Linked DNA regions of Homo sapiens: region 1 is linked to region 2. Evidence: fine-mapped QTL for protein levels in blood plasma. Region 2 holds a variant in brackets. A gene starts in the other region. All regions are shown on one strand. Distances are from middle to middle. Region 1 holds the start of CD160 (CD160 molecule). Region 2 has its middle 40 kb from the start of NOTCH2.

Evidence for each region. PIP is the chance, under the fine-mapping model, that this variant and not a neighbour inherited with it causes the effect. Protein levels are from antibody-based Olink assays in UK Biobank. Linkage for the fine-mapping came from a reference panel and not from the study's own genotypes, which makes the PIPs less certain.
Region 1: it holds the start of CD160, and the variant in region 2 is fine-mapped to the plasma level of the CD160 protein (UK Biobank, PIP above 0.99).

What each region holds. Positions count from the first base shown.
Region 1 is chr1:145,717,323-145,721,713 of GRCh38, forward strand. CD160 (CD160 molecule) reads left to right here and starts at 2,177. Exons shown (of 6, transcript NM_007053.4): 1 at 2,177-2,237.
Region 2 is chr1:120,107,380-120,111,770 of GRCh38, forward strand. No RefSeq gene overlaps it. Among named protein-coding and RNA genes, the nearest start is that of NOTCH2, 40 kb to the left of the region's middle. The variant T/C (reference allele first, on the strand shown) is at 2,109.

The DNA of each region.
Region 1 (4,391 bases), 26 Mb after region 2:
GCTGTGGTGGACTGGTCCTGTGACCAGGATGATGGTGAGACACTCCTCTTCCCAACATGGGTTCCCAACCCCCAGGCTCCCAGAATGGACTCATTCTGCAGTGAAAGCTAACACTTTGATGGAGTGAAGAAGTATTTCTTTTCTTTTTTCTTTTTTTTTTTTTTTTAGAGACACAGTCTCACTCTGGCATCCAGGCTGGAGTGCAGTGGCGCAATCACGGTTCACTGCAAGCTCCGCCTCCCGGGGGGTCACACCATTCTCCTGCCTCAGCCTCCCCAGTAGCTGGGACTACAGGCACCCACCACCAGGCCCAACTAATTTTTGTATTTTTAGTAGAGACAGGTTTCACTGTGTTAGCCAGGATGGTCTCAATCTCCTGACCTCGTGATCCACCTGCCTCGGCCTCCCAAAGTGCTGGGATTACAGGTGTGAGCCACTGCGCCTGGCTTGGAGTGAAGAAATATTTCTAATATCTGTCTCATTTGACGATGGCTTCAGTGGAGCCATCTGGGAGTTCTCAAACCCCAGAGCACCCTACTGTTTTTAGGACCACAGAGTACTACAATAACAGGAATAAGAAGGAAAAGAGAGTCTCTAGACTAGTTATGAAAAATTTTCCCCCACCCTCCCTCCACCCTTGAATTCCTGGGTAGCCTGGCACTGGGTGGCAATCATGACAGGTGTTCCTCCAGAACCGTGGGGCTTCCTGGTGTGCTGTGCCCTTTGGCACAGGGCCTGGCCCAGCCTTGCAGGACTTAGAGCCCAATGCTTCTAATTCTCAGACTAATGTTCCTGCCATCTAAGGGCACAACCCTAGAATTTAGGAACAATTGTAATCTCCCAAGCCATCACTGACCAAGGAAGAACAGAACAGAATAGAAATGGATGGGAAGCTGGGAGTGGTGGTTCAGGCCTGTAATCCCAGCACTTTGGGAGGCCAAGGCCAGAGGATTGTTTGAGCCCAGGAGTTCAAGAGCAGGCGGGGCAGCATAGGGAGACCTCATCCATACAAATCATTTTTAAAATTATCAACCGAGCGTGGTGGCTCACGCCTGTAATCCCAGCACTTTGGGAGGCCAAGGCAGGCAGATCACTTGAGGTCAGGAGTTTGAGACCAGCCTGGCCAACATGATGAAACTGTCTCTACTAAAAATACAAGAATTAGTCCAGCATGGTGGCAGGCTCTCGTAATCCCAGCTACTCAGAAGGTTGAGGCAGGAGCATCACTTGAGCCCAGGAGGCAGAGGTTACAGTGAGCTGAGATCACGCCACTGTACTCCAGCCTGTGTGACACAGCGAAACTCCATCTCTAAATAAATAAATAAATAAATAAATAAATAAATAAATAAATAATAAATAAATAAAAAGTTATCCAGGTGTGGTGGCGTACACCTGTGGTCCTAGCTGCTTGAGGGGCTGAGGTGGGAAGATCACTCGACCCCAGGAGGTCAAGGTTGCAGTGAGCCATGATTGCCCCACTGCACTCCAGCCTTGGTGACAGAGCAAGACCCTGTCTCAAAAAAAAAAAAAAAAAAAGGAAAGAAAGAAAAAAGAAAAAGAAAAAAAATGGGTGGGTGGGAAGATAAGGTCAGTCATTCATCCTCCCCCCACCACATCAGGACCATTTTGGTGCCCCCACTCGTTGCCTCCCCTGCTCACCACCACCCTCACCCAAGCCTTCTTGACAGCTCCCTGACCTTCTTCCCTTTCAGCCTGGAGCAGCTGTGTTCTCTGTCCTACTTCTAACCAAAACCTACTCTCAGGAGAAGACTTGGTACCTTTCTTTATACTTGAGAGGACATTCTGTCCTTTTATCTTCTAGTTATTCTATCATCAGTCCTTTCCTTATTATGAATTAGCAAATACAAAATCTTTGTTCCCCAGGGTAAAGAAAAGAATTTTAAGAAGTGGTTTTTCTTAGCCCCCTCAGCACCCTAGTCTATTTCTAACACCAAAAAGACAAAACAAGGGAGAGGAAAGGAGAAGGAGATGGAGGACCAGTTGCAGGAGAGAAAGGAGAAAAAAATCCACAGTGGGGGTGGCGGAAGATCTATGACTTCTAACAACCCATTCTGTGGTTTTCAAAGAGCGAATATAATAACAGCTATGAAAGTGTGAGCAATGACGAAACTGGAGAGATAGGGTTTTAACAAGATGCAAGGACAATCTGAGGACTGAGAGCCATTTCAACGTGAGCCCCCAGTCTGAGAACAAGAAAGAAGAACTTCTGTCTCGAGGTAAAAAGGCCTGCTGGGGACCTGGGGTCCAGGTGAAGGGATGGGATGGTTGACAGAACTGCTCAGGTGAGGACAGGCTTCTCATGAGGTCCCTGAGAAACTTGCCTTTTGGAGGGAAATGTCCTCTGCCCTCTGGAGCCTGGGGAGAAGGTTATTTCTGCCCGCCAGACCAGCATGCTCGCTTTTCTTCCATGGGCATTCAGGAATCCTGGCCCCATTCTGACATTCCTCAAATGGAGGAATTCCTCAAATTACCAGAGGAAAGTTACCAAAGTTTAGATCTGCTGGAGCTCTTCAAGGATTGGCCTGAGACAAGCCGGGAGGTGCCACGGGGCTTGGAGCTGGCCCTGTGAGGCACCTCCGGGGGAAGTTCATGTCCTAGGTGGTTCACGTCATGGACCTCTTGGAGGTCCGTGAATAGATTTATTCATGGGATTTGTGAATTGGGGGGAAAAATACATCTTTATTTTCACTAATCTTTAATTGAAAGTCAGCACTTGCTTCAGTTATGAATGTAGACAATGAACCACAATAGAATTTGCCATCAATAGAAAACACAAATATTTTCAAATCTCATTACAGTTTTTATAGATTTCTCCAAATGTCCTTAACGCTCAGCACTACTACAGAATTACAACAGTTATTAGGCTGATGTCAAATCTAAAGAAGCATGTGTACTGCTCTACCACACATTCTTCTAATGTTTTGACAACTGTCTTGTCATAATTTGTTCCCTTTATTATCCCATGTATCTTATTAATTTTTAAATGTTGTTCTGAGAAGGGACTCCATATGCCTTCCCAGACCACCAAAGAGGTCCATGGCGCCTTTATGTCAGGCACCTGCTTTGGTGTGTTGAGCAGGAAGCCTGAGATCTCAGACAAGAGCTTCAAGGGCCCCCCAGCCCAAACCTCTGTCTACTAACAAGTCTGGTTCTACTTTAAGGCAGTTGGGGTTGTGGAGATTGAAAAAGAAGCCCCTTCACAGCTGCAAATGAGATCTTTCTGGGCATCTTTTTCAGTGTCGTGGGAGATCTGTATACAGAGGTATTTGTGGAGCTCAGAGCTGACCTTCCAGCTCCTCTGAGAGGTTAGATCCGGGCTCCGGTGGCAGAGGAAATGGAGACTCTTCCTTGCCCTCTTGTCCCCACCCTCCCCAGAAAACCTCTGGCAAAGCTTTATGTGTCATCTAACCGTCACCACATTCCTATGAGGTAGTTTTAAACACAAGAGGAATGTGAGGCTGAGTGAGGTCCAGCAATGTGCTGGTCACACAAAGCTTGGATTTGAACCCAGGAGTCCACAAGACTCCAGGACCGCCTCCGAAGGTGCGGGAGGGAAGAGTTTCCCGCCGTCTGTGAGCTGTCGCCTGAGAGAGGCACCGAGCCCTGGGGCCACCAGCGCAGCTCAGGAGCCCCGGGGACCATCAAAGATGAGGATGCCAACTCCACGGGCACCCTCCCCCCTGCCCGCGCTGGGGCTCACAACGTTTTAAGAGGGGAGACCCGCCCCTGGCGTGTAGTGGGCCCGGAAAATTCCCAGACTTCTCACGACCACCCGCTCTCCCCTCTGTTGAGGGCCAGGTGCCGCTCTAGTACATGCTGCGTCCCCAGGACCCACCAGGCCCAACTTTGCACCCCCTCATCTCCCCTCCTAGTTTAGACTTTCCCTGGCTAGCCCCCATGCTCGCTGGATGGCCCATGGCTGGAGTGACGCGGGCCAACGCGGGGCAGGTAGGGGGTCACTCGGCTTTGGCTGAAAGGCAGCGCCCTCTAGCGGCCAGAGTGCGAAATCAGCGCCGCCGGCTCCGCGCTGCCCCGCCTGCATCACAACAGGGTGCTCCCCTCCCGGGCACCAAGGTCACTTCCCAGAGCATCCTTGCCCAGTGACCTCGCTGCCCCCCAGCGCTGGTGAGGGGCCCACAACAGACTTACATGCTCTTCTTCAACTCGGCCCTAGGCACCGCGAAGTCTGGCCACTCCAGCGGAGTGACCAGCTGCATCAGCCCCTCCCGCCTGTCCTCTCTCTCCTTGGAAGCGGTCCCTACCCTGCGCCCCTCCCATCCCGCTGCACCAGTCCCTTAGGAAACACGCCTAGAGAAGGGACACGACCTTGTCAACATTCCACAGCTACCTAGTGCGGAGCCAGGACTGGA
Region 2 (4,391 bases):
GGTTTCATCTTTCTCATTTCCCTTGCTATGATGCTACCATATCCCAAATAGGGCCAGCTCCTTCAGTCTAGATTAAGAATGCAAAAGACATGAAGTAATCAGTGGCCAATTTACGGTGTACATGTAACATGAACAAATACAAATCTATTTTGTTATTAGGATATGGGGATTATCCATTACTGTATCACAACCCGGCTAAAACTGACTGATACAACTCCTTTGAGGATTATAAACACAGTCTTTGAAGCTAATGCATGATGATATGAAAATCAGTGTTGATGATGTGACACGCAGTGTTTTCCAACAAAGTAAGAAAGTTCAGTATGCTGCCAGGCATCACAGATGCGCCACACGTGCATCGGGTACCAAGGGTGTTCTGTTCGTCAAAGTTCTGTTTGACAAAATAAAACTTTTATCATTTTGAAAATGTCATTAGCTACAGGAGTTTTCAAAAGGGGCCAACAAAATTAAACTTTAAAAATCTGTTTGGTGTGTACATAACACACAAAACAAGAGCTGACTGCACTGAAAGATACCAGGGATTCATAGAGTTGTATGCTGAAAGGAAATGGCATTTCTGTGAGTTTATTTATGACCTACTTCAATATATTGGAAGAAATGTCAGCAATTTGGAGGTTGGTAACGTAATTTAACAGAAAAACAGCTTCAATTTTCTAACTCTACCACAAACCCCAAATCAGCCTGACCATTTCTAGGGCACACATCTGCTTTGCTTGGTAACAATAGCAGCAGCAACAATAAGTAATGACAAATGATCACATATAAGGAACCATGTTAATGTATCACTAGATATTAAACAGGGCATTACTTTACTGGTATATGTGTCCAATTTGAATAAACAAATTAGTATATGTGTCAAATTTGGATCCAGCAGGGCACTTCAAAACTTAAGTAATCATGACTCAACTCTAAATACTCAATTTTAAAGTAGTTTCTAAACTTCAGCATATTGACATTCCGGGCCAGATAATTCTTTTTTGAGGAACTCTTCTGTGTAGGATGTTTAGCAGTATCCCTGGCCTAACCCGTTAGATGCCAGTAGCACCCCACATTTGTGACAACCAAAAATGTCTCTAGACATTGCCAAAAGTCCCTTGGGTGACTTCGTGCTCTAAAGCTATGAATCTAGTGGGAAGAAATTAGAAACCAGAATACTACATAGAAAATATTTTTGAGTAGACAGGACTATTGATTCATCTAATTAGTTCAGGTAGTTAGCTGATCATTTTTCTTGTAATTCAAACAAACCCTTCCCCAATTCTTAGTAATAGCTGTTGATTGAGTGCCGATTGTGGACAGTAAACATAATTTGCATAGTCAATATAGCTTGGAGATTAAACACTCGGCTCTGTAGTCTGGGTTGCAATCCTGGCTCTGCCATCTGCTCTCTGTGTAACCTGGGGTATGTTTCTTTACCTCTCTGCCATTGTTCCTCAACTGTACAATGAAATAATGATAGCATGCATGAAATCATACAGGCATGTTGTGAGAATTTAATAAGTCAATGAACATAAGGTGCTTAGAACCAAGCTTAGGGTATGGAAAACAGAGAATAGATGTTTCTTGTTATTCTTAAACCTTACAACAACCGTTCAAGTTAGGCAGCATTATCTGCATTTTATACATGTGGAAGCAAATATTCAGGGAAATCAAGTCCCAAATACACAACTGCTAAATCACTTGGTTAACAAGAAGAGGAATCAGATTCAAACTCCAAAACTGCCATGTTTCTCACTACACGGCAGGCTTGGGTGGAAAACAGGTTAAACCTGGGAGAAAGAGTCCTCTTTTAGGGATAAAAATTGGGATTGTTCAGCTGGTGTGGTGTGTTTGCATGGGGTAGCACAAAGCCCCCGTGAACATGACTTTTACCACTATCTGTGTGAATTTGGCAAGCGTCTCGAACATCCTGGGGCTGTTTACTCATCTGCAAAATGGACACAAAAACACCTGCTCTGCGATCTTCACGGGTGGTGGTCAGAGTCATGTGAAAAGATGCAGGCAGTAGAGCGCTGTGAAACTCTAAAGTGCTCAGCAAATGTGAGGTAGGCTGGGTGCCCTGGTTCACGCCTTTAATCCCAGCACTT[T/C]GGGAAGCCGAGGCGGGCGAATCACTTGAGGTCAGGAGTTCCAGATCAGCCAGGCCAACATGGTAAAACCCAATTTCCACTAAAAATACAAAAATTAGCCGGGCGTGGGGGTGCGTGCCTGTAATCCCTACTCGGGAGGCTGAGTCAGGAGAATTGCTTGAACCTGGGAGACGGAGGTTGCAGTGAGCAGAGTTCGCACCACTGCACTCCAGCCTGGGCGACAGAGAGAAACTCCATCTAAAAAAAAAAAAAAAGGTAAGGTGGAAATATAAGCCTGGGCTCTCGGGTAGTCATGTCTAAGACCTTTCAATCCCTTAGTCATGTCTTGCTTCTCCCGCAAAAGCAAGTTTTTCTGTGGCCCCATGTCGCCATCCTGGCCTCAGGGGCAGCTGACCTTGCTGGGGAGGCACCATGTGCAAGTGGGCGGGGATGGGGGCTTCTCCCCTGGTTCCAGGGTGGGCAGACTGGGAGGTGACCCCAACATGGATGTGGCAGCTGCTGCTTATCTGTAGTTAGTCAACGGCCCAGACAGATGAGGTGTCCGTGGTGACCTTCCTGCCTCAGTGAGTGTGGGAACTCGGGGCTTCCCAGGGCGAAGGAGTGGGAACATAAACAAAATGGGCCCTGCCGGAGCTCGGGCATCGCATCCTCCCTCAGCCCTGCCTGAACCTCGGAGGAGGCGCCCAGGAGATCATCCAGGCACCGCTGCCTAGGGCCGCGCAGGGAAGACGGCCAGGGCTCCAGGGTCCGCCTCAGTCACTGTCACCCCGCAACATGATTCTGACTCCCCCAAAGGTGGGTGCTTCCTGCCAAAAGTCCCACCACCGGCACCCTTTGTTGTCAGAGGGCAGAGTCAGAAATATGTCATCCTGGTGGAAACTCTCCCTCCCTCCCTCTCCCCTCAGCAGATTTAGCCCTGGATTCCATGGACTGCTGCAGGGGTTAGTCTTCTGGAGAGAGCAGGGCCCCTGCATCTCTTTCTGACAAAAGACGGCAGACATAAACAAGGGGAAGTTTGAAAGAAAGAGAAACGGCTAATTCTCAGCAACCTTTCATATGTCTGCGGAAGGCTTGGCATCCATGGCCCAGCCTTCTTCAGGATGAGCACCTATGTCTGCTACTCTTTGCATCAAGTGACTTCTCCATGCCTTTCTTGTGTCTTTTTTCTCGCTCCTTTCTGTTGCCTCCTTTATGTTTTCTCACTGCCTAGCTCTTCCCAATAGCACCACCCCGAGTGGTTCTAGGGCAAAATAGTAAAGCATTTTAAATTTGTTTTCATGACTTCCCACCCTTTTTTCAGTCTCGTTCCTTTCCATCTTTAAGGTGGCCAGCAGCTGCTCCGCACTTGACAAACGTGCTGGACACTGCTGCTGGGGAGACATCAGCCGGCAAGCAAGGGAAAGTTGCAGACTTCTCAGTGCTTACCTCCTAGCTGGGAAGACAAATATTGGACAACTATTCTCTAAAGGAGGCATGCAGAGTGCTGTGAGTGCCTGTCAGTAGGTGCAGACAGGGGCTCAGGGAGAGCATCCTGGAAGAAGAGATGTTTGGGTTGAGCCTGGAAGCGTGAATGTTGGGTGAAGTGTTGGGAAGAGAGGTGAAGACAGAGAATAAGACAGGGGAGAAGGAACACATTCTATGTGAAGGTGCTGAGGGAAGATAGAACATTTGAGGAACCAAAAATGAATTGTACAGCTGCCTGTGGTACATAGCCTGGGCCTCACCCTCTCCCCTGAGCACTTGACAATGCACATAAGGTCCCTAAACACTTCTGCCTACTCACCCACCATAAAACCTGTCATGTTTGCTCTCCCTTTAAGGCTCTGTTTTTTTGCCTTCCATAATTGCGATCTCAACTGATAGTTTCCTAAGACAGATTTGGGGTCTGGAAACAGATTCTTAGCTGAATTCTACTACTTCACTGTGCAAACTTGAGGAAGTGAGGTATATCATCAGTAATATGGGCTAATAACTGTGCTAGTAGTAACATTTCATGATTGTTTACACTGCATCAGCTTCCAGTGCTAAGCACTTTTGTCTTTTATTGTATGATTCTCACAAATCCTCATAAGGTAGGTAATGCTTTTATCCCTTTCTCCCTTCTCAAAGGATTCTTAGGAAGCCTAGGTGTGACACTAATTATAGATGCACTTTGTAACCATTAAGGGTTAATGCAAAAAATGAAATATTATTGTGATGTTCAATAATAGTACCATGATGTTCAACAAGTACATATTTAATGAATAACTGCATTTGTTGAATGCCATGACAGTTGTGGGCTAT